Regions from separate parts of the Homo sapiens genome. Here regions 2 and 3 are each linked to region 1. Evidence: fine-mapped QTL for protein levels in blood plasma. A gene starts in region 1. Each other region holds a variant in brackets. All regions are shown on one strand. Distances are between the middles of the regions.

Region 1 (11,720 bases):
TTGATGGGGCAGCTGGGTTGTTATGAAATACTCAGGAACCCAGCCCAGCTCTAGGACTCACCCCTGAGCACAAAGGCAATGTTAGGCATGCTGGTAAAGGACCACTAGAATCCAGCAGCCCGAACCCCTTTCTTTGTGGTCAAGAAAGGCGGTAAAAGGGGTGTAGGACCACTACATCGGTGAGCGTAACTAGTCTGATAAGCAGAGGTCCATGGGTGGTTACGTGCCCTGGAAAGGAATAAGCATTAGGACCACAGAGGACGCTCTAGGACTAATGTTCTTCAGAAAATGACTAGGGGTGCTGGCATCCCTATGTTCTTTTTTCAGGTAGCAAACATTCCCCTCAAGGCAAAAACACCCCGAAGATGTATTCTGGAGAATCGGGACCAATTTGACCCTCAGACGCTGAGAAAGAAATGACTTATATTCTTCTGCAGTATTGCCTGGCCACAATATCCTCTTCATGGGGGAGAAACGTGGCCTCCTGAGGGAAGTATAAATTATGACACCATCTTACAGCTAGACCTCTTTTGTAGAAAAGAAGGCAAATGGAGTGAAGCGCCATATGTACAAATTTTCTTTTCATTAAGAGACAACTCGCTATTATGTAAAAAGTGTGATTTATCCCCTACAAGAAGCCCTCAGAGTGTACCTTCCTACCCCAGCATCCCCCCTACTCCTTCCCCAACTAATAAGGACCCCCCTTCAACCCAAATAGTCCAAAAGGAGATAGACAAAAGGGTAAACAATGAATCAAAGAGTGCCAATATTCTCCGATTATGCCCACTCCAAACAGTGGGAGGAGGAGAATTCGGCCCAGCCAGAGTGCATGTACCATTTTCTCTCTCAGTCTTAAAGCAAATTGAAATAGACCTAGGTAAATTCTCAGCTAACCCTGATGGCTATATTGATGTTTTACAAGGGTTAGGACAATCCTTTGATCTGACATGGAGAGATATAATGTTACTGTTAAATCAGACACTAACCCCAAATGAGAGAAGTGCCGCCATAACTGCAGCCCGAGAGTTTGGCGATCTCTGGTATCTCAGTCAGGTCCATCATAGGATGAAAACAGAGGAAAGAGAACGATTCCCCACAGGCCAGCAGGCAGTTCCCAGTGTAGACCCTCATAGGGACACAGAATCAGAACATGGAGAATGGTGCAGCAGACATTTGCTAACTTGCGTGCTAGAAGGACTAAGGAAAACTAGGAAGAAGCCTATGAATTATTCAATGATGTCCAGTATAACAAAGGGAAAGGAAGAAAATCCTACTGCCTTTCTGGAAAGACTAAGGGAGGCATTGAGGAGGAAAACCTGTCTGTCACCTGACTCTTTTGAAGGCCAACTAATCTTAAAGGAAAAGTTTATCACTCAGTCAGCTGCAGACATTAGAAAAAAACTTCAAAAGTCAGCCTTAGGCCTGGAGCAAAACTTAGAAACCCTACTGAACTTGGCAACCTCGGTTTTTTTATAATAGAGATCAGGAGGAGCAGGCGGAATGGGACAAACGGGATAAAAAAAAGGCCACCGCTTTAGTTATAGCCCTCAGGCAAGTGGACTTTGGAGGCTCTGGAAAAGGGAAATGCTGAGCAAATTGGGTGCCTAATAGGGCTTGCTTCCAGTGCAGTCTACAAGGACATTTTAAAAAAGATTATCCAAGTACAAATAAGCCACCCCCTCGTCCATGCCCGTTATATCAAGGGAATCACTGGAAGGCCCAGGGCCCCGGGGGATGAAGGTCCTCTGAGTCAGAAGCCACTAACCAGATGATCCAACAGCAGGACTGAGGGTTCCCGGGGCAAGCACCAGCCCATGCCATCACCCTCATAGAGCCCTGGGTATGCTTGACCTTTGAGGGCCAGGAGGTTAACTGTCTCCTGGACACTGGCACGGCCTTCTCAGTCTTACTGTTCTGTCCTGGACAACTGTCCTCCAGATCTGTCACTATCCGAGGGGTCCTAGGACAGCCAGTCACTAGATACTTCTCCCAGGCACTAAGTTATGACTGGGGAACTTTACTCATTTCACATGCTTTTCTAATTATGCCTGAAAGCCCCACTCCCTTGTTAGTGAGAGAAATTCTAGCAAAAGCAGGGGCCATTACACACCTGAACATAGGAGAAGGAACACCCGTTTGTTGTCCCCTGCTTGAGGAAGGAATTAATCCTGAAGTCTGGGCAACAGAAGGACAGTATGGATGAGCAAAGAATGCCATCCTGTTCAAGTTAAACTAAAGGATTCTGCCTCCTTTCCCTACCAAAGGCAGTACCCCTTAGACCCAAGGCCCAACAAGGACTCCAAAAGATTGTTAAGGACCGAAAAGCCCAAGGCCTAGTAAAACCATGCAATAGCCCTTGCAATATTCCAATTTTAGGAGTACAGAAACCCAGTGGACAGTGGAGGTTAGTGCAAGATCTCAGGATTATCGATTAGGCTGTTGTTCCTCTATATCCAGCTGTACCTAACCCTTATACCCTGCTTTCCCAAATACCAGAGGAAGCAGAGTGGTTTACAGTCCTGGACCTTAAGGATGTCTTTTTCTGCATCCCTGTACATTCTGACTCTCAATTTTTATTTGCCTTTGAAGATCCTTCGAACCCAATGTCTCAACTCACCTGGACTGTTTTACCCCAGGGGTTCAGAGATAGCCCCCATCTATTTGGCCAGGCATTAGCCCAAGACTTGAGCCAATTCTCATACCTGGACACTCTTGTCCTTTGGTACATGGATGATTTACTTTTAGCCACCCATTCAGAAGCCTTGTGCCATCAAGCCACCCAAGCACTCTTAAATTTCCTCGCTACCTGTGGCTACAAGATTCCAAACCAAAGGCTCAGCTCTGCTCACAGAAGTTTAAATACTTAGGGCTAAAATTATCCAAAGGTACCAGGGCCCTCAGTGGGGAACATATGCAGCCTATACTGGCTTGTCCTCATCCCAAAACCCTAAGCAACTAAGAGGGTTCCTTGGCATAACAGGTTTCTGCCAAATATGGATTCCCAGGTATGGCAAAATAGCCAGATCATTATATACACTAATTAAGGAAACTCAGAAAGCCAATACCCATTTAGTAAGGTGGACACCTGAAGCACAAGCAGCTTTCCAGGCTCTAAAGAAGGCTCTAACCCAAGTTCCAGTGTTACGCTTGCCAAAGGGGCAAGATTTTTCTTTAAATGTCACAGAAAAAAACAGAAATAGCTCTAGGAGTCCTTACACAGGTCCGAGGGATGAACTTGCCAACTGTGGCATACCTGAGTAAGGAAATTGATGCAGTGGCAAAGGGTTGGCCTCATTGTTTATGGGTAGTGGCAGCGGTAGCAGTCTTAGTATCTGAAGCAGTTAAAATAATACATGGAAGAGATCTTACTGTGTGGACATCTCATGATGTGAACGGCATACTCACTGCTAAAGGAGACTTGTGGCTGTCAGACGATCGTTTACTTAAACATCAGGCTCTATTACTTGAAGGGCCTGTGCTGCAACTGCGCGCCTTTGCAACTCTTAACCCAGCCACATTTCTTCCAGACAATGAAGAAAAGATAGAACATAACTGTCAACAAGTAATTGCTCAAACCTACCCCGCTCGAGGGGACCTTTTAGAGGTTCCCTTGACTGATTCCGACCTTAACTTGTATACTGATGGAAGTTCCTTTGTAGAAAAAGGACCTTGAAAAGTGGTCAGGGATAATGGAATACTTGAAAATAATCCCCTCACTCCAGGAACTAGTGCTCAGCCGGCATAACTAATAGCCCTCACTCGAGCACTAGAATTAGGAGAAGGAAAAAGGGTAAATATACATATAGACTCTAAGTATGCTTACCTAGTCCTCCATGCCCATGCAGCAATATGGAGAGAAAGGGAATTCCTAACTTCTGAGGGAAAACCTATCAACCATCAGGAAGCCATTAGGAGATTATTATTGGCTGTACAGAAACCCAAAGAGGTGGCAGTCTTACACTGCTAGGGTCATCAGAGAAGAAAGGAAAGGGAAATAGAAGGGAACCACCAAGCAGATATTGAAGCCAAAAGAGCTGCAAGACAGGACCCTCCATCAGAAATGCTTATAGAGGGACCCCTAGTGTGGGGTAACCCCCTCCAGGAAACCAAGCCCCAGTACTCAGCAGGATGAATAGAATGGGGAACCTCATGAGGACATACTTTCCTCCCCTGAGGATGGCTAGCCACCAAAGAAGGAAAAATACTTTTGCCTGCAGCTAACCAATGGAAATTACTTAAAACCCTTCACCAAAACTTTCACTTAGACATTGATAGCACCCATCAGATGGCCAAATTATTATTTACTGGACCAGGCCTTTTCAAAACTATCAAGCAGATAGTCAGGGCCTGTGAAGTGTGCCAAAGAAATAACCCCTGCACTGCAGGCCATACCTTTCAATCCCTGTACCTTTAACCTCCTTGTTAAGTTTGTCTCTTCCAGAATCGAAGCTGTAAAACTACAAATGGTTCTTCAAATGGAGCCCCAGATGCAGTCCATGACTAAGATCTACTGCAGACCCCTGGACTGGCCTGCTAGCCTCATGCTCCAATGTTAATGACATTGAAGGCAACTCTCCCGAGGAAATCTCAACTGCACAACCCCTACTACACCCCAGTTCAGCAGGAAGCAGTTAGAGCAATCATTGGCCAACCTCCCCAACAGCACTTGGGTTTTCCTGTTGAGAGGGGGGACTGAGAGCAGGACTAGCTGGATTTCCTAGGCTGACTAAGAATCCCTAAGCCTAGCTGGGAAGGTGACTGCACCCACCTTTAAACACGGGGCTTGCAACTTAGTTCACACCTGACCAATCAAGTAGTAAAGAGAGCTCACTAAAATGCTAATTAGGCAAAAACAGGAGGTAAAGAAATAGCCAATCATCTATCACCTGAGAGCACAGCGTGGGGGACAATGATCAGGATATAAACCCAGGCATTTGAGCCAGCAATGGCTACCCTCTTTGGGTCCCCTCCCTTTGTATGGGAGCTCTGTTTACACTCTATTAAACCTTGCAACTGCAAAATATATATATATATATGAAAAATAATTATAAAATTGGTAATGGAGAAGCATGGAAATAAGTGGGACTGAGGAATAACATAAATGGACTACTATTTATTTATCATTTTATTAATATTATTTTTTAAAATAATATTAATTATTATTATTTATAATTTTATTATATTTATCATTTTATTAATGATATTATTTATTATATCATTTATTATTTATCATTTTATTAATCATTAATATTAATGTATTATTTATCATTTTATTAATATTAATTTGATTGTATTACTTCTTTTTGCTTCATTTCTCTAAAAAATAAAGCTAAAAAAGATGGCAAGATATTATCGCTGTAGATTCTAGATGGTCAACCTATACTTGTTTGTTAAATGTTTTCTGTATGATAAAGATAATTTATTACAAAAAGAAAAGCAACATGACTATGGAATTATTTCTTATTTTTATTTTTATTTGCTACCACAAGAAATGTGAACTCTGATACATTGTGAACAGTTCAGATCTGCAAAATTATCACCCACAAGCTGTTTGAGTATGATTTATGGTAATTAATTGAAAACATTATCTTAATTTTTTCCCAAATGAACATTTTGTATTATAACTAGCTTATTCTAAAAGAAAAATCAATAAAAAGCAATAGCCTTTTTAAAATACCCAAATAGATAACGTTAGAAGAGCAAACATGATATGAACAGGGAACTCTTCCAAGATCAATGTGAAAATTTGAAACCAAATAAATATTAACACAGTTTTCTGATAAAAATTATTGCCTCCAATAACTGCACAGGTCATATGATAGTTACTGTTCATGGCTTACGTATAATTGACCAAATTTCAGTAGCTATGTTATCAGCTTTCCAGTTCTTTGATGTTAATAACTTCCCTCATTGGCCTCAGGGGCTTTGAAGTTTTGTCCCTTTTTCCTGTTTTATAGTTGCTCAGCACCTAATCTTATCCCTTTCCCAATTCTTCTGACAGTGTTAGGATAAGATGAAAGGACCAAAGTGGCATTCTGGACATCTGGTTAATATATCTCAAAGGGGTGCACTTTAGTGATAAATCTCCAGTGAGATACAGTTCAAGGCTATTTTTGACATGGACCCTGCTGAGCCATCTTCCAGGAAACCTCTACATTTTACCATCCTTGAAACAAATATATTAGGCTCCTGCAAAGAGATCAGTTTTCACTTTTATAATTCTAAGAATGACTACTAAGTCTTATCTGCAAATATCTGATTCAGAAGATAATAGGGATAAAAGTACAAATTGGACATCTTTTGGCAAAGGAAGCTCCTTAAAACTCAGCCTTGGTTACATCAAGAATAAGAATTCCTGTGTCATCCCTAAGAAGTAGATTTTTATATAACTCAAAACCAGCTCAAGAAATATAATATTTAAACAAACTTCTCAGTGCTTGGTTAATAAGCATTGTTATGAAGAAACAATGAAAAATAAAACAAAAACAACTCAACTTTAGTGAGTTTAGTGAGTGTCATTGCAAAGAAAATTTCACATTGCACTTAGGGATTTTATAACCTTAAGGCTTATTACAAAGGTCACACTATTTCAATTAAGAACAAAAGTGAGTTTTAATAATAAACTGTCAGCATTTCAAATCTTCTCTCCTAGGTATCTTGAAATATACAACATATTGTTGTTAACTATAGTCACCCTATGTGCTATCAAAAGCTAGAACATATTCCTCCTATCTAGCTGTATGTTTGTACGATGAACTAAACTCTTTTCATCTCCCCTCACCCGTCTCAGCCTCTGGTAACTATTCTACCCTCTGGTTACCTTCTACCCCGTACCTCCATGTGTTTACATATTGTTGTATAAATTTTGTGGAAAAAAATCCTTTTTAACAAAATAATCTGCTGGCTATATTTCTTCTCATATTATTTGAGGAATTGCATTGAATTTTGGGTACTGAATTTTGAGGACGTGAATTAAGGATGAGCTACATCTCATGACCTCGTCACAGACCCCTACTATAAACATCTGCATACAAGTTGGCATATTACAACAATAGCATGAGAGTCAGGGTCTGTAGAAATTCCCAGCCTAACTTTTTCCTGGACTGGCCAAACTGAACCTGAACCAGTGTATGGGCAATGTAGTATGCTTGTCAGAGGCACCAAACTGCTAACTCAAAAATAAACATGACTAAAAGAACTTCTCCCAGTATACCCATATGAAGCTGACCATTTGCCCAGTAAGAATGCAATGAAAAGGGCTTTTAATGTACAGCCAAATGGCAGTCCAGCAAGGAAGCTCATGAGCAACCTACAAGTAGTGAGCATTTTGATGTAATAGAGACTTACATGCAATTCAGAATTATGTTTACAACATCACAAAACAAAAATTTAGAGATAGGCTCTCACTCTGTTGCCTAAGCTGGAGTGCAGTGGGATGATCATAACTTACTGCAGCCTTGAACTCCTGGGTTCAACTGAAGGTCCTCCTACCTCAGCCTGCTGAGTAGCTAGGACCACAAGCACACACCACCGCAACTGGCTTAAATTAAAATATAAATTGTAGAGATAGGGTCTTAATGTGTTGCCCAGGCTGCTCTTGAACTCCTTGCTTCAGGTGATCCTCCCACCTCAGCCTCTCAAAGTGCTGGGATTATAGACCTGAGCCACAGCACCTGGCCAACTGACCTATGATTTTACACAATGGCTGCTCTTCCCTTCTTTAACTATTATTCATTCTTCTTTGATCCTCATTATTTGACTGTAGTCCTTCTTATGTCTTGTTTTCCTTCATTACCTCTTATTCTATCACATTGCCATTGTCATTCTCCACTGGGGAAGCTCTTTCTTGCTGAAGACTGGAAAGACAAGTCCATTCACCTGATTTTCTGTAAGATTGTGGCTCATGTATTGACTTGTCAGACAATTCTGAAGTTTCATCAAAATTAGCTATCATGCTTGCATAATGGCCCTGAACCCTCACTCCTACTCTTAGCTTCAGTACCATCTATGTCCTCAACTGTCCATGATACTTATAATTCCCGTAAATCTTCACTTAACACCTAACATTTATTTAATCTTACTAGGCAAGGTAATAAGAAATACATAGGTTTGCCTCCAGAAGTGGGTTCTTAAGAAACCCACCAGAGGAACTCCTCTTTCAGATGTCCACATTAGAAGATTTCATATCACATTTGGTGCCACAGGCCTTTGACAAGGAGGATGCAGAGGAAAAAGCAAACTTCACCTCTTCCTAGGGAAAGTGTTGGCCTGCCAACAGGAAAGAGGCAACATCTGGGAAAATCCCCAGTCTTTGCCAGGAAGAGTCCATGCCAACCCCACCCCATGACCCCTGTCCTGCCTACTCATTGTCACTCTTCACTCCAATGTCCCTCCCCCAGATCCTCTTATAAAATCCCACTCTTTCCTGACCAGACAAACCATACCATATCCCACCAGAGAGGTAAGTGGGAGCTGAGAGAAGATGAGACCCAGGGAGGAGCTACTGCACATGACACAGGAGAATACATGGGAGGGTCCCTTCCTCAGGGAGCACAGGAACTCTGAGACTCAGCAAGGGTGTCCTGGGAGGGCTCGGGGATGGGAGAGTACACAGATTCACAACTCATTCAGAACTGTAGAAGATGATGGATGTGACCAAGATCACTTTAGTCCTAGGGGACTAGAGAAGGAAAATGACATGAGGCAGTGGGGTATCTGTGTGTTCTCCCACTGACCACGCTTTCTTTAGTGACTCCTGATTGCCTCCTCAAGTCGCAGACACTATGCTGCCTCCCATGGCCCTGCCCAGTGTATCTTGGATGCTGCTTTCCTGCCTCATGCTGCTGTCTCAGGTTCAAGGTGAGATTGCTTTGCCTCTAGCACTGGGTTCCCTATGAATCCTCAGAGCTAACAAGAGGAGGAAGGCTCCTGTGTGTCATGTGAGGTAATGACGTGGTGTCTAATGAACCTGCCTGCAGTTCTTGCATCATCTCTCCTTCCTTCAGGTTAACTTGCAGTGGGAGGCTCCATGGTGGTCCACTAACAGTGGAATGAGATGGCTTCCATTTAGTCAGTGGACTCTAATATACACTGGTGGGAAAGTGGACTCTAATATACACTGGAGGGTCAGTAATGAGATGTGGGGAGGGACAATGATTGGAGGACCCAATGTAGAGACAGCCCAGAGTGAGGAGAGTATTGAATGGTTGAATAAGGGGAAAGGGTAATAAGAGACTGGATGGTGCTCCATTTACTACGGCTATTTTGAGATAAAGAATTTCTGAAAACATAAGGGAAGATGAAGGGGTGTCAGGAATGTGGTCTTCCTCCCCAAGGACATTCCTAGGTATTCCCCAAGGTCATCTCCCACCCCAAGCCCCACTCTTCATTTTACCCTCCCCCCTCTTCTTCCACCTCAGGTGAAGAACCCCAGAGGGAACTGCCCTCTGCACGGATCCGCTGTCCCAAAGGCTCCAAGGCCTATGGCTCCCACTGCTATGCCTTGTTTTTGTCACCAAAATCCTGGACAGATGCAGATGTGAGTGGTTAGATGTGGTGTTGGAGGTGACCGGTCTCAGGGGGAGGAGGGTCTCCATTCAGGAGAGTTCCTTGGGAATGAGGATGAACACGTTTATCTTTCACACAGTCCTCCTCCCACCTACCTTTGCCCTGCCCTCCCTCAGCAGGTCTCAGGCTCCCTCTCATTCTCTTTGTTGCCCTCAAAGCTGGCCTGCCAGAAGCGGCCCTCTGGAAACCTGGTGTCTGTGCTCAGTGGGGCTGAGGGATCCTTCGTGTCCTCCCTGGTGAAGAGCATTGGTAACAGCTACTCATACGTCTGGATTGGGCTCCATGACCCCACACAGGTGCCAGTATATCCTCCCCTCTCTGTTACCTCTCAAGGTGCTATTGTTGCCCAGGCCCACTCCCTGTCCCCTGTGCCTGCCCAGGAAGTACTTCAGGGAGCACTGGAGCTCAGATTCTGGGGAATATTTGGGGGGAAAGGGAAGGCCATGAAGCATCTGAAGATCTGAGTTCTGTGGAGGTCTCTATCTTTCAGATAAAATCAATCTGCCTTCCTCAGGCGTATTACATAATTCTCATATGAGGCTGGGTTAACAATTCTCTGAGCTTCATGGAGTCTTTGCCTACTATTCTGAAGGAACTCTTAATGAAGATAGGATCAATTTTTGTCCCCATACAGAACTGACATTACTTTTGAGGTTCACAAGCTAATCACAAATGCTACATCAATTATTGTTCTGCAAATAATATATTACCTTGAGTTGTTCCAAAGGTCTTATGTTTATTGGCTGGAATTTTCCAATAGCAATGAGGAGTCAAGGAAGAGTTTCCTACTCACCGGCAGCATCTGGAATAGCAGACCAACTTTCCTCATGCTGGGGAGCAAATCAGGTGTTGCAGCTAAGGGGCCATGCAAGAAGAGCTGCAATGGCCATTCCCTTCACCTGGCTACCTCCTCTACTCTACAGGGCACCGAGCCCAATGGAGAAGGTTGGGAGTGGAGTAGCAGTGATGTGATGAATTACTTTGCATGGGAGAGAAATCCCTCCACCATCTCAAGCCCCGGCCACTGTGCGAGCCTGTCGAGAAGCACAGGTAAGAAACAGAGGAGCTGCCTCTTCCCAGTGTTTTCCATCTCATCCCCCATTCCTGGGTCTGACCTTCAGGAAATCTTCCTGAGCTAGAAAATACAATGTTAGTGTGTCTTCTCTTATCTCCTCTCTTCTCCACTTTCTTTGAATCTCTCTCCTGGATTGGGACACTGGTGAAGGTGAGGGAGAGGCTTTAACTTCTAGGCTAAAACCTGGGATGCCCCTTCATTGGATTCACAAGCTTCCTCAGCCCCATTCCATTTATGTCTTCTGTCTCTCCAGCATTTCTGAGGTGGAAAGATTATAACTGTAATGTGAGGTTACCCTATGTCTGCAAGTTCACTGACTAGTGCAGGAGGGAAGTCAGCAGCCTGTGTTTGGTGTGCAACTCATCATGGGCATGAGACCAGTGTGAGGACTCACCCTGGAAGAGAATATTCGCTTAATTCCCCCAACCTGACCACCTCATTCTTATCTTTCTTCTGTTTCTTCCTCCCCGCTGTCATTTCAGTCTCTTCATTTTGTCATACGGCCTAAGGCTTTAAAGAGCAATAAAATTTTTAGTCTGCACTTGTTTGTCTTGTATATGCCAGTGTCATAGCCATACTCTGAGAAGGACAAAGTGTTTGAGTGGAGGAAACTTTATGGGTCTTGCTTCTTCCCTATTCACCCAGGCCTCTAGGGAAAATGATGAAGTGTGCATCCCTACCAGTGTGTTATGATGAGGGTGTGGGTCCTGCTCATGTAGGATTTGTGTTGTGGAGAGATGAGGACATTTCTCTCCCGCGTACTTACTGCCCTCCCATTCCCGTAGCCCAAACCTGACAGTGTGACATGAACAGATTTAGGAGGCTCTGATGGTGCTTAGAATAGTACTTCTCAGAGAATGGCATCAGCAGGATGGTAGATAGGACTTTCCAGCTCTTGAACCTTCACAGAAACATTCATTTGAACTACTACCCATTAAAATGGAAATACCTTCACAAGAGCTAACAATCCCAAGTGAGTGATTAAAGCATCTGAATGTTGCAAAAAATAAGAAAGGATGCATCGAAGAGGGTAGAAAGAAGACTTTTACATTATTTATATCACCCCTCCATCAATCTC
Region 2 (11,720 bases), 25 kb after region 1:
TAAACATTGTGTGGAGTTGAGGTATTTAGAAACCAAGAGGTATTCTATCAAGAAAATGTTAGCCAGAGATGCTGTCTGTAGAATGTGCATGTAATGTCTTAGGTGCTACTTGAAATTTATCATAGGGATGAGAAAAGTTTTCCAGTTGTATAATGCTTTTGGTGCATTCCTTCTTCAATTCCATCATTTTAAAGATTTTCAAAAGCTTATCATCTCTCTGCTGCCAACTTCCCACAGACCTTTCCTCAGACAATTAAATCCACACAAATCATCTTTTTCTAAAAGTCATTGACTACTCTAAGTGTGAAGAGCCCTCTTGTTTTATGGAGAGAGAAAATAATGTTCAGAGAAGAGTTGAGAGACAATTGTCTCACGTTTCTCCACTTCTTGCAAGCAGAGGCACTTACTGCCATTTTTTCTAGACTATCTTTCAAGAATGTTTGGGTAGTGAAAAACCTTTTTTTTTTTTGTTTGTTTTTTTGAGATGGAGTCTTGCTTTGTTATGCAGGCTGGAGTGCAGTGGCGCGATCTCGGCTCACTGCAACCTCCGCCCCCCAGGTTCAAGCGATTCTCCTGCCTCAGCCTCTCAAGTAGCTGGGATTACAGGCACGCTGTAATTTTTGTATTTTTAGTAGAGACGGGGTTTCACCATCTTGGCCAGGCTGGTCTTGAACTCCTGACCTCATGATCCACCTGCCTCGGCCTCCCAAAGTGTTGGGATTACAGGCGTGAGCCACCGCATCCAGCTGTGAAAAACCTTTAAAAGTAGAGACAGCATCTTCCTCCAGAGCAAAGGGTAGGTTTGCTTATAGTCTTGAAAGTTTCCATTCATAGTGAAGACAGGCATACTTACTCCCAGGTACAATAAAGAAGTCTCCCTCTGAAGCAAAGGGTAGGCTTGCTTGTTGCCCATTATAAGTGATTCAGGTTCGTTCCCTAAACTCTCATAATGTAATTACAGGGGCCATTTCTCCCCTGTAACATAACCCACTCAATGTGAAGGCATCTATCTGGCCCATCGATGTCACCTCCATGAGACTTAGAGTAAGGGAACCTAGGGTGAGTGTGCTGCTGCTTGTTCTGCTTACTGTACCATGAGTAATAAAAGTCCTTTGTCTTTTGCCAATCTCAAACTGTGGAAGTCTACCTTACCTTGCAAGTAGGGTAAAAATCTCAGAACCTTTATAATTCTTGACATGAAGTTAAATGATTTTTGCTTGCAGCACATTGGAAGAAAACAACAACCTCAGCTTTCTTTTTCTCTCTCTCTTTTTTTTTTTTGAAATGGAGTCTTGCTCTGTCACCCCAGCTGGAATGCAGTGGCACATCTCAGCTCACTGCAACCTCTGCCTCCCGGGTTGAAGCGATTCTCCTGCCTCAGCCTCCCAAGTAGCTGGGATTACAGGTGCCTGCCACTGTGCCTGGCTAATTTTTGTATTTTCAGTAGAGATGGGGTTTTGCCATATTGGCCAGGCTGGTCTCGAACTCCTGACCTCATGATCCGCCCACCTCGGCCTCCCAAAGTCCTGGGATTACAGGTGTGAGCCACTGTACCCGGCCCAGGAACAGCTCAGCTTTCTAAGAATGTCTCCCCAAAGAAAACCTGAAGGTAAAACAAATGTCCTTCCAAACATTTGCAAACATCAAATACTGTGGAGTTCAAGAGGATCACAGATTCGGGAATCTTGTAAGAAAATAAGTATGGAAGAAAATCAACCAGAGCACTACTAAAATTTGGGGTTATACAGTCAGAGTTTTTATTAGCCTATCCTCAACAACACTTACAAAAATAAATTTTAGGATTTTTGTTTGTTTCTTTAAGAATTTATCTATATTTCTAAAGCCATCTTCGTAACAACTTTTAAAATGCTGACCATTTAATAGTTGGAATCTTTGAACATTTTGAGTATAAAGTGCCAGAGAATACAATTATAGGTTATTTAACTATGGGGATATGTTCTAAAAAACGCATCCTTAGGTGATTTCATTTTCACGTGAACATCAAAGACTGTACTTACACAAACCTAGATGGGATAGCTACAAAGCGTCAGTAGCATAAGACTTTATTTGAAAATGTTCTGGCTGGGCGCGGTGACTCACGCCTGTAATCCCAGCACTTTGGGTGGCCGAGGCGGGTGGATCACGAGATCAGGAGATCGAGACCATCCTGACTAACACGGTGAAACCCCGTCTCTACTAAAAACACAAAAAATTAGCCGGGCGTGGTGGCAGGTGCCTGTCGTCCCAGCTACTCGGGAGGCTGAGGCAGAAGAATGGAGTGAACCCGGGAGGCGGAGCTTGCAGTGAGCACTCCAGCCTGGGCGACAGAGCAAAACTCCGTCTCAAAAAAAAAAAAAAAAAGAAAAAAAGAAAAGAAAATGTTCTTGGCCTAAGAAGAGTCCCAAGGGCCATTCTGACTTGGGGCAGGAAGGTGAAATGTTTTATGGGGCTTTAGCAAGGGTACTTCAGCCACCATCAAGGATAGAGGGACTGTTCCTGAGGATTAGCAGTCATAAATTGAGTAATTTGAATTTAATCAAAAGATATGAAGATAAATCGTTAGGGGATGAAGTATTATGCAAGTGGGGATTAGTTGGAGGAGGGGGACATTAGCTGAAAGGGCATGAACATGAAAGTCCAGAGGAAATGTCTTAGGTATGAAGCCTTTTGATTCTTTCATGTGGGAAATAGAGTAATTGTTCCCCTTATACAAGTTTGAGTGAGGTTCATCGCAGAGGAGCATGAATTATTTGCCATGCTGTGCTATGCAGAATTATGACCCCCATGACCCTTGATGTTATGTAATGTGTGCCCTATGAATGTGAGCAGAACCTGTAAATAGGATGAGATTGAAAAACCACAACTATGTTATATTACATGGAAAAAGGGATTCTTGAAGATACAATGAAGGTTACTAATTCATTGACCTTGTATCAATAAGAAAGCAGGTTTTGGGAGATTCCTGGAGGGGCCCAGTCTAATCACGTGAGCCATTTGAAAGCAGATAATTTTCTCTGACTGGCAGCATAAGGGGAAGTCAAGAAATTCAAAGGCCAAAAAGAATTCACTGTCCTGTTGCTAGCTTAGAAGATGGAGAGGTTCTTGTACCAAGGAATCTAGCTGAGACTGGCACCTAAGCTGATAGCCA[G/A]CAAGGAAGTGGGAACCTCAGTGCTACAACTCTACAACTACAAGGAACTGAATTCAGTCAATAATCTGAATGAGAGTGAAAGTTTGTCACACAGCCAAGTTAAACTAATAAACTGACTTTACAGGGGAAAAACATATATGGGGATTAGTCTGGAATCCTCTTGTGAGTTATAATTACCTTCTCCAAAGATCAAAGACCTGGTTCCTCTAAAATTTTAATGAACAGATCTTAACCTATCTTCTGGTGCATTATAAGGCTATTTTAATCTATGCTAAGGAGACAACATGAAGGAAAATTCTTAGGTCTGGCCCTATTGTGTTCTTTAATTGGCTAAGTAGAGAAAATGCCAATGTTGAAAAGAACCAATAGGAAATTCTACTGGATGGTAGGATCAGAAGGCAAGCCAGCAAATCCAGTAAGGGAGATTCTCAGAAAGAACCTGGAGCTCCTTTTGCAAAAGATAGAGAGTGATCTTGATGGTTTTAAAAGTGTGCTCAACAGAGGAAGGAAAGCATAGGCTTTTCAGCTACTTGTGGGACAGTCCAAATTGAAATGCATGAATGGTTTGAGAAGTACATAAAGGTTATAACAGGGTGATGCAGGCAGTGGTCTTGTCAGGAAATGGACAGTGCAGAAGGACTGACCATACATGGACTGACAGAACCTGCAAGTGGAGGGTGCTCAGAGACCAAAACAAACAAACAACAACAACAACAGCAACAACAACAGTATATTAGACTACGAAGGAGAAAAAAAGAAGAATTGAGTTTTAGCTCTGCTTTCTTCCATAGTACAGTATTGGAAAAGTCAATTAAGTTACCAATATTTTAAACTCTATTTGCCCCACTGCTCCAAACAGGGATGCTCCATAACCATTCAGCAGCTCCCTTCTCCCTGTGTCTCAAAGACGGCCCTACTCCAGGTTCTCACTCTCTCTGCCTCTACTACTGCTGGCCTAGCCTGCATAACAGCTGCCAAGATTCCTGGAAGGTCTCAGCTGCTTGCTGGATCTTCAGGGCTGCAGGATAGGACATCTGGTTTCTGCTGAGCAAGGGCAAGGTCTGCCTTGAACTTGGAAAGGTTTCCAGTTTAGGGGAAGGGACTTCATCTGTGGCCATTCCCAGGATATGCCAGGAAGAGCTCCTCTTGATGCCAGAACCTCTTACTGTCAATGCCCTCTGTAGAACCGCTGTCTCTCACTCCTTGCTCCACCCCGGCTTAAATACTGTGGCTCTTCTCTCAGATCCTGTTATACATCTCTACCATTACCTAGCCTGAAAAGCCACCTCAGATTCAGCCAACAAGTAAGTGGGCATTACAGGAGAAGGGTACCTTTCACAAGGGCTGTAATCTAAAATCTTGGGGAAGATACAGCGTCATCTGTCCAAGAGGTGTCAGCAGTAACGAAGCCTCAGTAGAAGCCAAAGTTATTTTGGATTACTGAGCCTGTATAGTTTCCAGATTCTCAAGAGAAATATATGGGAATGTAGATATCTCAGAGGACCTTCCTGCTGTCAGGAATTCAGAGGAGGAAATAAGGAAGGTAATAGGTGCTCTGCTCTCATTCTCTCAAACCCTCTTCCCTGTGTTTTCCTATAGAGATTGCTGATTTGCTCCTTAAGCAAGAGATTCACTGCTGCTCAGCATGGCTCAGACCAACTCATGCTTCATGCTGATCTCCTGCCTGATGTTCCTGTCTCTGAGCCAAGGTGAGATTGTTTTCCCCACACATACCTCCCACAACCCCAGCCCTGAAGCCCTCACTCTATCCTCATGCATATGAGTTCACTTGAGAAAAAGCAGAGTCAAGTTCAGGGGTTGTCTTGTGTTGTTCAGTGATATTTATTGCTGATCTCATCCCATTCAAAAACATCCTGACCTCCCTAAGGAGTTAGAGATGGAACTTAGCATAACCCTTTATCAGTGACCACTGCAGTTGGCATTGGTTTGTCATATTAACACTACTCATGATGGGGGGGTTGAGGATGTCTGTTTGTAGACAGTCATTAGTGGAATGGGGAACTGAGGGGAGCTTTGTGTGTAGAGAAACTGGACAGGCTTGAGAAAGAAGCCTCAGTCCTTCAAGGAAGAAAAAGCCATAAGTAAAAGGGACAATGGGGACACTTTTCATGAGCCTATTCATTGTGTGCTCTTGTCTTGAGCAAAGACATCTTGAGAGCCTATAGGTAAGATGCAGAAGGGCAGAAGTGACCAATCGCTTCGTGACCTATAGGATCCTTCTATTCCTATAAAGAATCCTCAGAAGCTCCTACCTCATATTTTAGCCTTTACCTTGCCCTGAGGGTCTTTCTTAATTGTCTCTCTTTTCCCAGGACAGGAGGCCCATGCTGAGTTGCCCAAGGCCCAGATCAGCTGCCCAGAAGGCACCAGTGCCTAAGGCTCCCACTGCTACTACTTTAATGAAGAGCATGAGACCTGGGTTTATGCAGATGTGAGTGAGGAGAGCAGTGTGGGAAGGGAGGCTCACGAAGGGAGGGGAAGCTGCCACTCTCCAGTGTGTTCAGTGGCTGATATGAGATGAGACTAATCCCCTCCCTATCCAATCATCAGCCCAAAACTTTCCAATCTACTTTATCCCATCATTCAGCACAGAGATGCTGGTGGTCAGTGACAGCATCATCAGGGACATTTCTGTGCTGTCCTTTTTCTGTTACATCCTCTGGGAGGGCTCAATATGTCTCCCACACTTTCCTCCTTCACTGAGTGCTCCATTTTCTTCTCCAACAGCTCTACTGCCAGAACATGAATTCAGGTAACCTGGTGTCTGTGCTCACCCAGGCTGAGGGTGCCTTTGTGGCTTCGCTGATTAAAGAGAGTGGCACCAAGGATAGCAATGTCTGGATTGGCCTCCATGACCCCCACCGGATCAGTCTGCTGCATCTTCTACCTCCTGATTATCAGGTTCCAGAGGGTCTGATGTCTGGCACCTCAAGCATCAGTTTTTACTATATTATGATAAAAGCAACCTCTCTATAAATCATATAATGTAAAGGATATCAAGGTTCTCCATAGGTTCTTCGAGATAAGCTTAAAGCTGAATTTCCTGTGTGTTTCAGGCATTCACAGATAAACTCATTCTCTGTACTTCTAGGGTAGCATCTTTATGTATCTATTATGTACCTCTTATCTATTGTGTTATCATCTCTGTTATAGAAGAGCCTTCTGTAGACCATATAGAAAAAGATTATAGAGGAGGAGAATCTACTGCTGGCAATTGGGAACCGCAAGGTATACTAAATAATATATCAACAACTAATGGCCATCTAATGCTATGCTGGATATGAACTTTTGGGGCCTCAGGAAAGAAAAACCAGGAACTAGTTTCAATAATGAGGTGTCATGGTTCCCTGTGGCAAATTTAGAACACTTATCGTTTGGCAGGACACAGAGAGGTAGGTGAACATTCCAGGAAAGAAGCAGCTTAGAGAAAATGTGGAGGAAATAATATGACACTTAGAGAAAAAGGAAGGTTTATTCTTGTCTTATGTCTTGACCTGTTTCTGAGTGCGAACACAAACCAGGTGTTTCTGTCTCTTTCTGAGTCACGTCTGCCCCTGTTCTGGCCCTTCCCCATCTAGAACTGCCATTATCAGTGGAGTAGTGGGTCCCTGGTCTCCTACAAATCCTGGGACATTGGATCCCCAAGCTGTGCCAATACTGCCTACTGTGCTAGCCTGACTTCAAGCTCAGGTGAGAGGCACAGAATCCACACACTTATTGCCATCCTCTCCTATTTATCTCTGAGGATCGACCGGGGACTGGGATAGAGGAAGGGTGAGCTCCTCATTCAGGAAATAGAGGAGTGTTTCCTCTTTATTTTTGCTGAGTCCTGCAGCCAGGAGGGTAATACACTCTGATCCCCTCAGTCTGAATCTTCTCATTGTCTTATAGGATTCAAGAAATGGAAGGATGATTCTTGTAAGGAGAAGTTCTCCTTTGTTTGCAAGTTCAAATACTGGAGGCAATTGTAAAATGGACGTCTAGAATTGGTCTACCAGTTACTATGGAGTAAAAGAATTAAACTGGACCATCTCTCTCCATATCAATCTGGACCATCTCTCCTCTGCTAAATTTGCATGACTGATCTTTAGTATCTTTACCTACCTCAATTTCTGGAGCCCTAAACAATAAAAATAAACATGTTTCCCCCATAGTGCTGTCTTCTGTGTCTGCTATTTCCCCACCTAATGCCTGGGTAGTTGGGATGGCAGTGATTGTAGCACTCTAGAAGTTGCTTCGGCCCATTCACTTTTAAAAACTTTGTCCACATATCATGCATGTTGGACTCAAGGGTTTATGAACATATGGTGGCCTTGCTTATGACAATGTTAAGAAGATAAGGATTTCACTCACCACCCACATATTTCCATGGACCCAGTGTCAGAGAAATTATTACTGTTGATTTACAAGTGACTGGAGTGTTTGGTACTCTAAAGAGGTTCACATACCTGTGACCTGAGGAAGGCACATCTGTGCTTTGTTATACAAGTTGAAGCTATGACTGAAGTGATAATTTGAGAATTGTCAGGTCTACAGTGTTGAATGCATTGGTGTTGGAATGACTAGAGGCTTGGTGGCCAGCAATGTTGGTTAAATGGCACTCCTGGAATGAACGGCTAAATGAATAATAAATTAGATTAATAAAATACTCAGGCATAGTTATTTAATAATCCTATCTTCATATACAGTCAAATTCTGAAGTACTGATGTTAGGACTTTAATGAATTAATTTTGTGGGAACACCATTCAGCCCATAACACCAACAGCATCAATAATACTATTACCTGGGATTTAATAAAACAATGCAATCAAAAGGCACATATTGTTAGTCTGAATTAAAACAACAACAAAATCTATTTATGAGCTATGAATAAATTGACTTAGATTCACAGACACTGTGGAGATGAAAGTGACTCCATCTTGGGTGCTAATCTGCCATGTTGACTTTTGATTAGCCCCAGTCGTGGGAATGCTTCCTGATTCCTACATTATTTACTGTCCTTAGGGTAAGAACATATACTTACTAGAAATCTTGCCTTTAGAAAAAAACAATCTTGAGGTCTTTGCACAAATGATAGGCTATAGTGAACATAGCATTCTTGTCTGTTTGGAAGGGTTGCCTCTAATTGTCTGTATAGAGCACGTGCACTCTTTCCCTGCGGTACATAAGCCCTGGGGCCAGGGAGTAACAGTGTGGAGATCTCCCTGTCGGTGGCCGCCAAGACCACACTTCTGTCTGTATGTTCCCCAGCAAATCACCCTTTACTGACAAACTGGACTCTTCTGCCTCAGTCTTTAGTTTCTTGGCTCCTTTCGTGTTTGGTGGTTGCTTTGCATATATGGTCATTTATGAAACAACTGGGGAGTCAGTCAATAGGGGTCCAGGAACCAAAGTTTGGGCAAAAGGCAGGAAACATACGTGGAGGAAATCCTGGCAGGCTCCCCTCATCTATGTGGGGTGGTGTTGGCTACTTGCTAGATGCCTGTGGACCATCATGTGAGTACAGAGATGCCCTGAAAATGCTGGAGGGTCTAGAATGCTTGTTAGTAGAACATCTTACAGCTCACTGGGGTAAGGAAGTTCACCAGGTGGCTGAGACAGAGGGTTGGCCACTGTTACGGATTGTGGGAATGGCCACAGAAGTGTAGTTAGCAGCTAAGATGAAGGTACTAAGACTAGAGGAAGAATTACCATTAGAAAAGGATATGTGGACCTCCACGTCCATGTTTGCATCTAGTCTGGCAGATAAGCTCAAAACTCAGGATACTCACCTGGAACCCCTAGCCTGCTGCTTTATATGGTTAGATGGGAGAGAGCTGTGTTGGCCAAAAGTGCAAGCTGTTCTTCCTAAATTGGACTGGAACGCTAAGACTTGTTGTCCTTAGGAACCAAATAGTGAGTGAGATGAAGACATACCTCAGGAGGAGGAGGATAATTATCCTTCCCTTTTGAGAGCAAGACCTCTCATGCAATGGAAAACAAAAGCCCAACGCCTGCAGCCAGCTGGTAATGGACAACCTTTTCAGGAAAACTTCAATGTCCAAAATTACACCTTGGCAGAATTATTGAACATAGCAAAAACTTTCAAAGAGCAGCCAATAGAAAGCTGAGCCACATGGATGATGCAGCGAAGAAAACCTAGCGTGAATGGCATTTCCTTAGCAGAAAGTGAAGCTGATACAATGAGTACTGTAACCACCCAATCTGCTTTGAGACAGCATTGCATAGTGCTGGAACTGCTGAGAGCAAGCACAGTCTTATAGACCAGATTATCCTGGCTGTGACAGAGGCTTGGCCAAATGAAGGGGACTTTCCGGGTCAAACTCTGGTAAGGTGAACTCTGGAGGAAACAAGGACCAATTTAAAGGAGTTGGTCATGCTCAGGCCATCTATGCCCAGCAATTTGCAGGACCAAATAAGGCCGTGTTTACCATAGGCAAAAATATATATATATATATAATAATAATAAGTTGTTGCAAGCTGCCCCGTCCCCACCACCCCTGGAATTGCTATGGTTCTTTCCTATGCCTCTTAAGCCCTCTTCTGGGACAAGATATATATTACATGAGGAAGCTGTAGCTAATCTTGGAAAAAATGAAAAGGAAAGAGATAAGGTCTGTCTGTTTGCTAAAAAAAAAAAAAAAAAAAAGGTGGGGGAGGGGGTGGAGAAGAAGAAGCCAAGTCTGCCAGACTAAAAAAGGGAGGAATGAATGGCCTAGTTAGGATTACCAGGAAGCAGATATGGTATGATCTGATCTCAGCTGGAGAAGACAAAAAATAGATCAGAAACACAATGCCGTATTAGTGGGCCTTTGGAAAAACCTGGCACCTGATCAACATGTTAGACTACTTCCTAGTGCCCCACCATAATAGAGAGTAGACGAGGAAACTTCACATAAAAGAACCCCAATCTCTGCATTCCAGGGGCAACTCCTCCCCAGCCTAGAGACTGTTGCCTCCTCCTGCCAGCAACAGGGGGCAAACAGGCCCCATGTGGATCTCACAATCTATTGAAGTCCAAAAAACAAGCAGAAAGGCTTAGCCTTAGTAGACATAGGTGAAAAATGCACCATAATTCATGGAAACCCAAAGAGACATCCTGGTAAGTGAGCAGCTGTGGATGGTTAAGGGGAGCGAACAATTTGAGTGAAACAAACTCCTTTCCTCATTTGTATTGGACAGAGTACCCCCACTTATTATATGTTTGTATCTCATTTATTCCATAAAACATCTTCCGTAAGGATGTCCATTTAGAATGCACTTTACAAATGTCTGTGAGGGACTTAGCCCATGAGTTTGGGTGGTAAAAGCTATTTTAAGAGGGGAAGCAAAATGGGAAGGGGTACACCTTCCTCCTCCACTGTGTTTATTAATGTGAAACAATACCATCTTTCTTGTGAGATAAAAGAAATGACAGGCACCATGCAGGAGCTGGCCAAAGTTAATGTTATATGGCCATTCCACAGTCCTTTCTAGAGTCCTGTACGGCCAGTAAGAAAACCTGATGGCACCTGGAACGTGAGAGTAGACTACCAGGAACTAAATAAGATGGTTCTAGAGATACACATCACTATACCTAACATAATCTAAGTGATAGAGCAAATAATACCAAAATAGCGCTTTGCACCCTGACTCAGGGAACCAATTTGCCTTTACTTGGAACAGCAAACAATGGACATTCCAAGTGTTGCCCCAGAGTTTTTTCCACGGCCCCACTATTTGTCATGGAGTGATTGCTAGAGATTTAACTTTGTGTTCACTGCCACCTGCTGTTAAACAGTTTCATTATAACAATGATATTATGCCAACTTCTGAAGACTCGCTATTGCTACAGCAGCACCTCCATGCATTGTGCACTCTTCTCCAATCCAGAGGATGGGCCATCAATTCACAAATGATACAAGGACCACGATTGGCTGAGCAGTTCCTAGGGGCACTTGGTTGGGTAAGACATGCCTTATCCCAGGGACAATCATTCATAAAATACAGTTTGCCATGCCTAAAGCATTTAAACAGTTGCAAAGTTCCCTAGGTCTTTTGGAATATTGGCAGGCTTTCATTACACTTTTAGCGCAACGTTTTCATGCTCTATACTGACTAGTGAAGAAGGGATCTAGTTGTTGCTGGGATAAAGAACAAGAAGACGCATTTGAGAAGGCTAAAATATTAGTGGCTCAGGCACAAGCCTTAGGTCATCTCTTCCCAGGGTGCCAATGTCTTTGAATGCGAACATAAGGCCTGAGGGGATCAGTTGGGTAGAAGAGTTGTGTCCCAGGCCTGTATCAGCTATTCTCTAAGCCTCCACTTTACAAAAGTGGCATGTATCCCTGCAACAACATAGTGCCTTCTCCGTGAGTCCCTTGGGAATGAACTGCATGCTATCTTAGAGCCAGTGCTATATATGGGGCCAGTGCTATCGATGGGACCAGTGCTGCCCTTATTGAGGAGCCTCCACAGGAGATGCCTCCAATAGTGCACAAAGGCACAGCCCCCATTCCTGAAAATGTGTGGTGCTCCAATTGACAAGAGCTAACCCTTGTATATGGATGG
Region 3 (10,265 bases), 14 kb after region 1:
AAAAAGATTGAAGAAAATTAAACAAAACCTCTGAAAATTATGGTATTATGTAAAGAGACCAAATTTATGACTCATTGAAAGCAAGCAATTTGGAAAACATATTTCAAAATATCATCCATGAAAACTTCCCCAACCTCCTTGGAGAGGGCAAACTTTAAATTCAGGAAATGCAGAGAACCCCTGTGAGACTACACAAGATAACCATCCCCAAGCCACACAGTCATCAGACTCTCCAAGGCTGAAATGAAAGAAAAAAATGTTAAAGGTAGCTAGAGAGAAGGGGTAGATCACTTACAAAGGGAACCTCATCAGGCTAACAGCAGTGTTGTCAGCAGAAATCCTACAAGCCAGAAGAGATTGGGGCCCTATATTCAGCATTCTTAAGGCAAAGAAATCCTAAACAAGAATTTCATATCCAGGAAAACTAAGCTTCATAAGCTAAGGAGAAATAAGATCCTTTTCAGATAATCAAATGCTAAAGGAATTTATTACCTCCAGACCTGCCTTACAAAATAACCTAAAAAGAGTGCTAAATACAGAAAGGAGTGACCATTACTGGCTACTACAAAAACATACTTAAGTACATAGACCAGTGACACTATAAAGCAACCACACAAACAAGTCTTCATAATAACTAGCTAACAACATGATGACAGGATCAAATCTGCATACATCAATACTAACCTTGAATGTAAATGGGCTAAATGCCCCAATTAAAAGGTACAGAGTGGCAAGTTGGAAAACAAGCATGACATAATGGTATGCCCCTCTCATATGCAATGACCCATCTCACATGCAATGACACTACTAGACTCAAAGTAAAGGGATGGAGAAAAATCTACCATGCAAACAAAAAACAGAAAAAAAAAGCCAGGTTTGCTATACCAATTTCAGACAAAACAGACTGTAAACCAAGAGATTTTTGAAAGACAAGGGCATTATGCAGTGGTAAAGGGCTCCATTCAAATGAAGACCTAACTATCCTAAATATATACATACCCAATACAGGAGCACCCAGATTTATAAAGCAAGTTCTTAGAGACCTACAAAGAGAATTAGATAACCACACAATCAGAGTAGAGACTTCAATACTCCACTGGCAGTATTAGACAGATCATCGAAGCAGAAAACTAACGATGATATTCAGGACCTGAACTCAACACTTGACCATATCTAGTAGACATCTACAGAACTCCTCACTCTCAAACAATAGAATACACATTTTTCTCATTGGCACATAGCACATTCTCTAAAATTGACCACACAATTGAGCATAAAACAATCCTCAGCAAGCTCAAAAAAACAACAACATAAAAACAAAAACAGAAATCATACCAACCACACTCTTTGATCGACCACAGTGCAATAACAATAGAAATCCCTACTAAAAAATCACCTGAAACCATACAATTACATGGAAATTAAACAGCCTGCTCCTGAATGACTTTGAGGTAAATAATGAAATTAAGGTAGGCATAAAGAAATTCTTTGAAATGAATGAGAACAAAGATGCAACATATCAGAACCTCCCACACACAGCTAAAGCAGTGTTAAGAGGGAAGTTTATAGCACTAAACACCCACATCAAGAAGTTAGACAGATCTCAAGTTAACAATCTAACATCACACTTAGAGGAATTAGACAAGTGAGAACAAACCAACTCCAAAGCTAGCAGATACAAGAAATAACCAAAATCCGACCTGAGCTGAAGGAAACTGAGATGTGAAAATCATACAGAAGATCAACAAATCCATGAATATGTCATTTAAAAGAATAAATATGACTGATACAACACTGGCTAGACTGACACAGAAAAAAGATAAGATCCAAATAAACACAATCAGAAATGACAAAGGGGACATTACCACTGACACCACAGGAAAAACAAGCAAACAAGCAAACAAACAAACAAAAACCCTCGACGACTACTTTGAACACCACTGTGCATACAAGTTGAAAGACCTAGAAGAAACGGTTTAATTCTTGGAAGCATATAACCTCCCAAGATTGAACCAGGAAGAAATTGAATCCCTGAACAGACCAATAATGAGTTCTGAAATTAAATCATTAATAAAATACCTACCAACCAGAGAAAGCCCAGGGCAGGATAGATTTTCTGCCAAATTCTGTGAGATGTATAAAGAAGAGCAGAAGACACCATTCTTACTAAAACTATTCCAAAAAATTGAGGAGGGGAGACTCCTTCCTAACTCATTCTATGAGGCCAACATTGTCCTGATATGAAAATCTGACAAAGACACAACAACAACAAAAAATCCAACTTCAGGCCAATATCCTTGATGAACATTGATGCAAAAATCCTTAACAAAATACTAGCCAACTAAATCCAGCAACACACCAAAAAGCCACAATCAACTAGGCTTTAGAATGTGAGGTTGGTTCAACATATCTAAATCAATAAATTGATTTATCACATAAACAGAACCAAAAACAAAAAACACATCATCATATCTATATATGCAGGAAAGGCTTTAGACAAAATTAAACATCTCTTTGTGTTTAAACCCTAAACAAAGTAGGCATTGAAGGAATATCCTTTAGAACCTTAAGCGCCATCTATGACAAACCCATAGAAAACATCGTACTGAATGGACAAAAACTGGATGCATTCCCCTTGAAAACTGAAATAAGACAAGAAAGTCCTCTCTCCCCATTTCTATTCTACATATTACTGAAAGTCCTGGCCAAAACAATCAGGCAATAGAAGGAAATAAATGGCATCCAGATAGGGTGAGAGAAAGTCAAACTATCCCTGTTTGCATATGATACTATTCTATATCTAGAAAACCCCATTATCTCAGCCCAAAAGCTCCTTCAGCTGATGAACAACTTCAGCAAAGTTTCAGGATACAAAATCAATGAAAGAAAATCACTAGGATTCCTATATAACAACAATATCCCAGCAGAGAGACAAATCAAGAACACAATCCCATTCACAATAGTTATAAGAAGAATAAAATGCCTAAGAATACAGATAAGCAGGGCGACAAAAGAACTCTACAAGGAGAATTATCAAACACTGCTCAAAAAAATCAGAGATGACACAAACAAATGAAAAAACATTCCAGGCTCATTGATAGGAAAAATCAATATTGTTAAAATGGCCATACTGCCCAAGGCAATTTATAGATTTAATGTTATTCATAAGAAACTACCGGAAACTTTCTTCACAGAATTAGAAAAACTATTTTAAACTTTATATGGAACAAAAAAGCCCGAATAGTCAAGGCATTCCTAAGCAAAAAGGACAAAGCTGAAGGCATCACATTGCCCAACTTCAAATTATACTAGAAGGCTACAGTAACCCAAACTGCATGGTACTAGTACAAAAAGAGACAGATAGACCAAAGGAACAGAATAGAAATCCCAGAAATAATGCTACATACCTACAAACATCTGATCTTCAACAAAGTTGACAAAAATAAGCAGTGGGAAAAGGACTTCCTATTCAATAAATGGTGCTGGGATAACTGGATAGTCATATGTAGATGATTGAAACTGGACCCCTTCTTTATACTATTTTAAAAGGTAAACTCAAGATGGATTAAAGAGTCAAATGTAAAACTATAAAATCCTGGAAGATAACCTAGGAAATGCCCTTCTGGACATAGGATCTTGCAAAGATTTCATGATGAAGATGCCAAAAGCAATTGCAACAAAAACAAAAATTGACAAATGGGATCTAATTAAAGAAAAGAGCTTCTAAACAACAAAAGAAATTATCAAAAGAGTAAACAGACAACCTACAGAATGGGAGAAAACATTTGCAAACTATGCATCTGACATAGTTTGGTCTAATATCCAGAATCTACAAAAATCTTAAATTAGCAAGCAAAAACTGAACAACTGCATTAAAACGTGTGCAAAGGACATGAACAGACACTTTTCGAAAGAAGATATACACACAGCCAAGAAGCATATAAATATGCTCAAAATCACTAATCATCAGATAAATGAAAATTAATACCACAGTGAGATGCCATCTCACACCAGTCAGCATGGCTGTTTTTAAAAAGTCAAAAAATAACAGATGCTAGCAAGGTTGCAGAGAATAGGCTATGTTTATACACTTCTGGTAGGAATGTAAATTAGTTCAGCCACTGTGGAAAGCAGTTTGGAAATTTATCAGATAAGTTAAAACAGAACTACTATTTGACCCAGCAATGCTATTATGGGGCATATACCAAAAGGAATATAAATCATTCTAACATAAAGATATATGCATATATATGTTCATTACACTGTTATTCACATAGCAAAGACATGGAATCAACCTAAATGCCCATCAACAGTAGGCTAAATAAAGCGAATGTGGTACATATACACAGTGGAATACTACATAGCCATAAAAAACAATAAAATCATGTTTGCAGCAACATGGATGGAGCTGGAGGCCATGATCCTCCACCAACTAACACAGGAACAGAAAACCAAATACTGTATGTTATCACTTATAAGTGAGAGCTAAAGTTTGACTACAGATGGCCACCAAGAAGAAGAAAACACACACTGGAACCTACTTGAGGATGAGGGGTGAAATGAGAGCAAGGACTGGAAAAGCACCTATTGGATATTAAGCTTATTACCTGGATGAAAAAATAATCTATACACCAAACCACTGTGACATACAATTTACCTATATAACAGACTGGCACATGTACTCTTGAACCTGAAATAAAAGATTTTAAAAAAAGAAAGAAAAAAATGGTTGTGAAAAACTTCCCATAACTGGTGAGAAAAAGGAACATCTACATCCATGAAGTACAAAAAACTCCACATACATTAAATATAAAGACATCTTCACTGAGACACATTACAATCAAATTCCAAAAAGTCAGGGATGAAAAGAAAATTTTCAATGCAGCGAAAGAAAAATAACATATTATGTGCAAGCGAATGTCTATAAGATTATCAGTTGATTTTTCAGAAGGTACCTTTCAGGGCAGGAGAGAGTGGGATAATATATTCAACATACTCAATGAAAAAACAAAACAAAACAAAACCCTGCAAACCAAGAACACTATACCTGGCAATCCTATCCTTCAGAAACGATGAAAAGAGAGGAAGTTTACCAGAAAAACAAAAGCTGAGAGAGTTCATTAACACTAGACCTTCTTTATGTAAAAGACTAAAAGAATTTCTTCAAGATGGAAGATAAAAATGCTAGCTGATACCATAAAAACACAGGAAAGTATAAAGTATAAATTGACTATGTTAAGTACATAGTAAAATTTGAAATACTCTAACATTGTAGTGATGGTTGGTAAATCACTTAAATCTTTAGCATAAAAGACAAAACTATTAAAAACAACAGTAACTACAATAATTGTTAAGGAATATGCAATAAAGAAACATGTAAATTGTGACACCAATAACAAGAATGTGCAAACAACAGCAAAAGTGTAAAATATTTTTATGTGATCAAGTTATCTTTTTAAAATAGTCTATTATAAATATATTTTTGTAAGCTTTATGGTAACCACAAAGCAAAGACCTATAATAGATAAATAATAAGAAGCAAGCAACCAAAGTATACCACAAGAGAAAATTATCTAGTCAAAAAGAAGAGAGAAAGAGAGGAAGAAAGAAACAAAGGACCTACAAAACAACCAGGGAACAATGAACAAAATGGCAGTAGTAAGTAATTACTTATTAATGATTATTCAAAAAGTAAATGAGTAAAATTCTCCAGTCAAATGGTATAGAGTGATCAAATGAATTTAAAAAAATACCAACACACAACTTAATGTTCCTACAAGAAACTTACTTTAGCTTTAAGAACACACATAGGCTGCATGTGAAAGAATTAAGATATTTCATGCAAATGATACCAAAATAAAACAGTGGTAGCTATAGTTATATTACATAAAATAGACTTTAAGTTAAAAACTTTAAAGAGAGGCAAAGGTCATTATATAATAATAAAGAAGTCAATTCAGCAAGAGGATATAATAATTTTAAATATGTGTGTACACATCATTGGAGCCCATAAATATATAAAGCAAATATCAATAGATCTGAAGAGAGAGAAAAATTGTAATACAATATTTGTTGGATAATTCAGTACCCACTTTCAACAATGGGCAGGTCATTCAGACAGAAAAAAATTCAATAAACAGCGGACTTGAACTACACTTCAGACAAATGGACCTGACAGACATACAGAACATTTCTTCCAACAAGAGCATAATAAACATTCTTCTCAAGTGCACATGGGACATGCTTCTGGAGAGATCATATATTTGGCCATAAACATAGGCTCAACAAATTTTAAACGACTGAAATCATATCAAGTATAATTTTCACCCAAAATAGTACAATACTAGAAATCAATAAAAAGAGAAAGATTGGAAAATATTCAAATATGTAGAAATTAAATGACATTATCCTAAGCAACCAGTGGACCAGAGAAGAAATTAAAAGTGAGATTAGTGGTGGGATCCAGCAGTCCCACTACTGGGTATCCAGCCACATACAAAAATGATTATATATCAAAAAAACACCAGCATGCATGTGTTTATTGTAGCATAATTCACAATTGCAAAGATATGTGCCCATCAACCAAAGATGGATAAAGAAAATGTAGCATACATATATATACATATACATATACAGACACACACAGACATATACCATATATATATACACACACACACATATATACCATGGAATAATGGTAATTGACTAGCCATAAAAAAGAACAAAATAATGTATTTTGCAGAAACTTGGTTGGAACTGGAGGCTGTCACTCTAGGTGAAGTAACTCAGGAATGAAAAACCAAATATTGCATGTTCTCACTTAAAATTGGGAGCCAAGCTGTGGGAACCCAAAGGCACACAGAGTGATAAAATAAACATTGGAGACTCAGGGTGGGGAGGGGAATGAGTGATGAAAAACTACCCATTGAGTACACTACTCGAGGTAGAGTACTGGAGTGATGCGTGCACTAAAATCTTAGACTTCACCACTATATAATTCATCCATGTAAGCGAAAGCCAATTGTACCACTAAAGCTACTGAAATAAAAAATTAAATTAGTATTAGAAAAATATTTTGAGACAAATGAAAACGAATATACAACATACTAAACTTATGGTATGTAGCAAAAGCAGTCCTAAAAGGGAATTTTATAGCAATAAATGCTTACATTAAAAATAAAGATCTCAAATAAACAACTTGACTGTACACCTTGAGAAACTAGAAGAAAAAATAAGCCAATATTTTGTAGAAGTAAAGAAATAATAAAGATTAGAGCAGAAATAAAT[G/A]AAATAAAGACTAGAAAAAGAATAGAAAAGATCGAGAATGAGAGTTGTTTTTTTTTGAAAAGGTGAATTAAATTAACAAACTTTTAGCCAGACTAAGAAAATAGAAGACCCAAATAAAATGAAGATGAGAAAGGAGACATTACAACTTAAACCACAGAAATTCAAAGGATCATTAAAGAGTATTATAAGCAACTAAGTATCTTATTGATACATATTGGAAAACCTAGAATAAATTGATAGATTTCTAGACACAGAACCAAACAAGATTGAACCATGGAGAAATCTAAAATATACATAGATCAATGGCAAGTAATAAGATGTAATTAGTAATAAAAAGTCTTCCATCAAAGGAAAGCCCAGAATGGGACGGCTTCAAGTCTGAATTCTATTTAAAGAATTAATACCAATCTTTCTCAAACTCTTCCAAAAAATTAACTAGGAGGGAATACTTCTAAACTCATTTTATGAGACCAGTATTACTCTGACACCAAAGCCAGAGAAAGACACTACAAGAAAATAAAACTAAAGACAAATATCCTTGATGAAATAAGATGCAAAAATCCTCAACAAAATACTAGTAAACTATTTTCAACAGCACATTAAAATGATCAAGTGGGATTCATCCCTGGGATGCAAGAATGGTTCAACATATGCAAATCAATAAATAATTTGCAACATTTATTGATTATTACTAAATAATAATAAATTACATTTATTATTGTTACTAAAATGAAGGACAAAAAAGATTATCCAATAGATGCAGAAAAAGCAATTGACAACATTCAGCCTTATTTTATATTTAAAAAAAACTGTCAGAAAATTAGATATAAAAGGAACGTACTGGCCGGATGCAGTGGCTCATGCCTGTAATCCCAGCACTTTGGGAGGCCGAGGGGGGCAGATCACCTGAGATCAGGGTTCAAGACCAGCCTGGCCAACAGGGTGAAACTCTGTCTCTACTAAAAATACAAAAAATAGCCGGCCCTGGTGGCAGGCTCCTGTAATCCCAGTTACTTAGGAGGCTGAGGCAGGATAATCGGTTGAACCCAGGAGGCAAAGTTTTCAGTGAGCTGAGATTGCGCCATTGCACTCCAGCCTGAGTGACAAGAGTGAAACTCTGTCTTAAAATAAAGGAATGTACCTCAACGCAATAAAGACCATATGCAACAAGCCTCCAGCTCTCAACATACTCAATGGTGAAAAGTCAGTTTTCCCTCTAAGATCTGGAACAAGACAAGCATGCCCACTCTCACCACTTCTCTTCAACATAGCACTCAAAGTCCTACCCAGAGCAATTAGACAAGAGAAACAAGCAAAAGCATTGAAACTGGAAAGGAAGAAGTTACATTCTCTCTTTTTGTGAATGACATGATCTTACATTTAGAAAACCCTACAGACTACATTAAAAAATACTATTAGAAGTAATAAAATAATTTGATAAGGTTTCAGGTTACTAAATAAACATACAAAAATTAGTAGCATTTTTACACTAACCATAAACTCTCCTAAAGGAAATCAAGAAAACAACCATATTTCCAGTAACTACAAAAATACTTAGGAATAAATTTAACCAAAGAAGTAAAAGATCAGTGCAATAAAAATAATAAAACTGGTATCAAAGAAATTGAATAAAACACAAATAAATGAAACTTATCCCATGTTCATAGACTGGATAAGTTAATATTGTTAAAGTCTTCATACTACCCAAAGCAATCTACAGTTTCAATGCAATTCCTGTTGAATTTCTAATAACATTTTTCACAAAAGTAGGAAAAATAATCTTAAAATTGAGATAGACCCACAAAAGACCCCAGATATTCACAGCAATCTTGAGCCAAAAGAATAATGCTGGAAACATCATACAACCTGATTTCAAAATATACTACAAAACTATATTAATCAAGACAGCATTGTAGTAGCATAAAAACAAATCCATAGACCAATGGAGCAAAATAGCCCAGAAATAAATTCACATATTTACAGTCAATGGAGTTTTTAAAGATGCCAAGAATAGATAATGTTGATAAACAGTTTCTTCAATAAATGGTGTTGTGAAAGCTTAACGTGCATACATAAAATAATAAAATTAGACGCTTATCTCATACTGTACAGAAAAATAAACTCAAAATGGGTAAAGACTTGAACATAAGACTGGGAACTCTAAAACTACTACAAGAAAACTTAGGGGGAAATGTCACAACATTGTCCATGTTATGACTGTATGACAAAATCAACTGGAAAATCATTTTTTGGTTATAATAGAAAAAACGCAAGGGTAAAAAAGCAGAAAGAGACAAATGAGATTGTATCAAAATAAAAACTTCTGCACAGGAAAGGGAACAAATATTAGAGTGAAGGGACTACCTACAGAATGGGAGAAAATATTTACAAAGCATACATATGATAAGGGGTTAATATTCAAACTGTATGAGGAACTTAATAACTGGCAAAAAAATACCCCAATTTAAAAAATGGTCAAAGGACCTGAACAAACTTTTCTCCAAAGAAGATACAAATATCTAGAGGTATATGAGGAAAACGGCTTAACATCAGTTATCACTAGGAAAATTCAAATTAAAACCTCAGTGTCATCTCACCTCATACCGTTTACAATGGCTGTAATTAAAAATAAAAGGTAACAGTTGTTGGCAAGAATGCAGGGGAAAGGGGATATTTGTATAGTACTGGTGGTAATGTAAATTGCTATAGCAATTATTCAAAACACTATGGAGATTCCTCAAAAGATTAGAAAAGAATTACTGTATAATCCGGTGATTCCATTTCTGGGGAGATATCCAAAAGAAATGACATCCAATCCCAGCACTTTGGGAGGCCGAGGCGGGCGGATCGTGAGGTCAAGAGATCGAGACCATCCTGGCTAACATGGTGAAACCCCGTCTCTACTAAAAGCCCAAAAAATTACCAGGGCGTGGTGGCGGGCACCTGTAGTCCCAGCTACTCGGGAGGCTGAGGCGGGA

Which allele goes with the higher level. Alleles are on the strand shown, and positions count from the first base shown. The strength of an association depends on the size of the effect and on how common the allele is.
In carriers of allele A in region 2, the plasma level of the protein whose gene starts at base 8,436 in region 1 tends to be higher than with G alone (moderate association).
For the plasma level of the protein whose gene starts at base 8,436 in region 1, allele G in region 3 goes with a lower level than allele A (moderate association).

What was found. PIP is the posterior inclusion probability: the model's chance that the variant is causal. The UK Biobank Pharma Proteomics Project read protein levels with antibody pairs (Olink). The fine-mapping took linkage between variants from a reference panel, not from the people measured, so its PIPs are less certain.
Region 2: its variant is fine-mapped to the plasma level of the REG3A protein (UK Biobank, PIP above 0.99).
Region 3: its variant is fine-mapped to the plasma level of the REG3A protein (UK Biobank, PIP above 0.99).

The regions. Positions count from the first base shown.
Region 1 is chr2:79,156,469-79,168,188 of GRCh38, reverse strand. REG3A (regenerating family member 3 alpha) reads left to right here and starts at 8,436. Exons shown (of 6, transcript NM_002580.3): 1 at 8,436-8,461; 2 at 8,750-8,859; 3 at 9,420-9,538; 4 at 9,726-9,863; 5 at 10,491-10,617; 6 at 10,896-11,183. The coding sequence starts at 8,784. The coding sequence ends at 10,963.
Region 2 is chr2:79,131,104-79,142,823 of GRCh38, reverse strand. It overlaps the pseudogene REG1CP. Among named protein-coding and RNA genes, the nearest start is that of REG1A, 16 kb to the right of the region's middle. The variant G/A (reference allele first, on the strand shown) is at 3,149.
Region 3 is chr2:79,143,556-79,153,820 of GRCh38, reverse strand. No RefSeq gene overlaps it. Among named protein-coding and RNA genes, the nearest start is that of REG3A, 11 kb to the left of the region's middle. The variant G/A (reference allele first, on the strand shown) is at 7,288.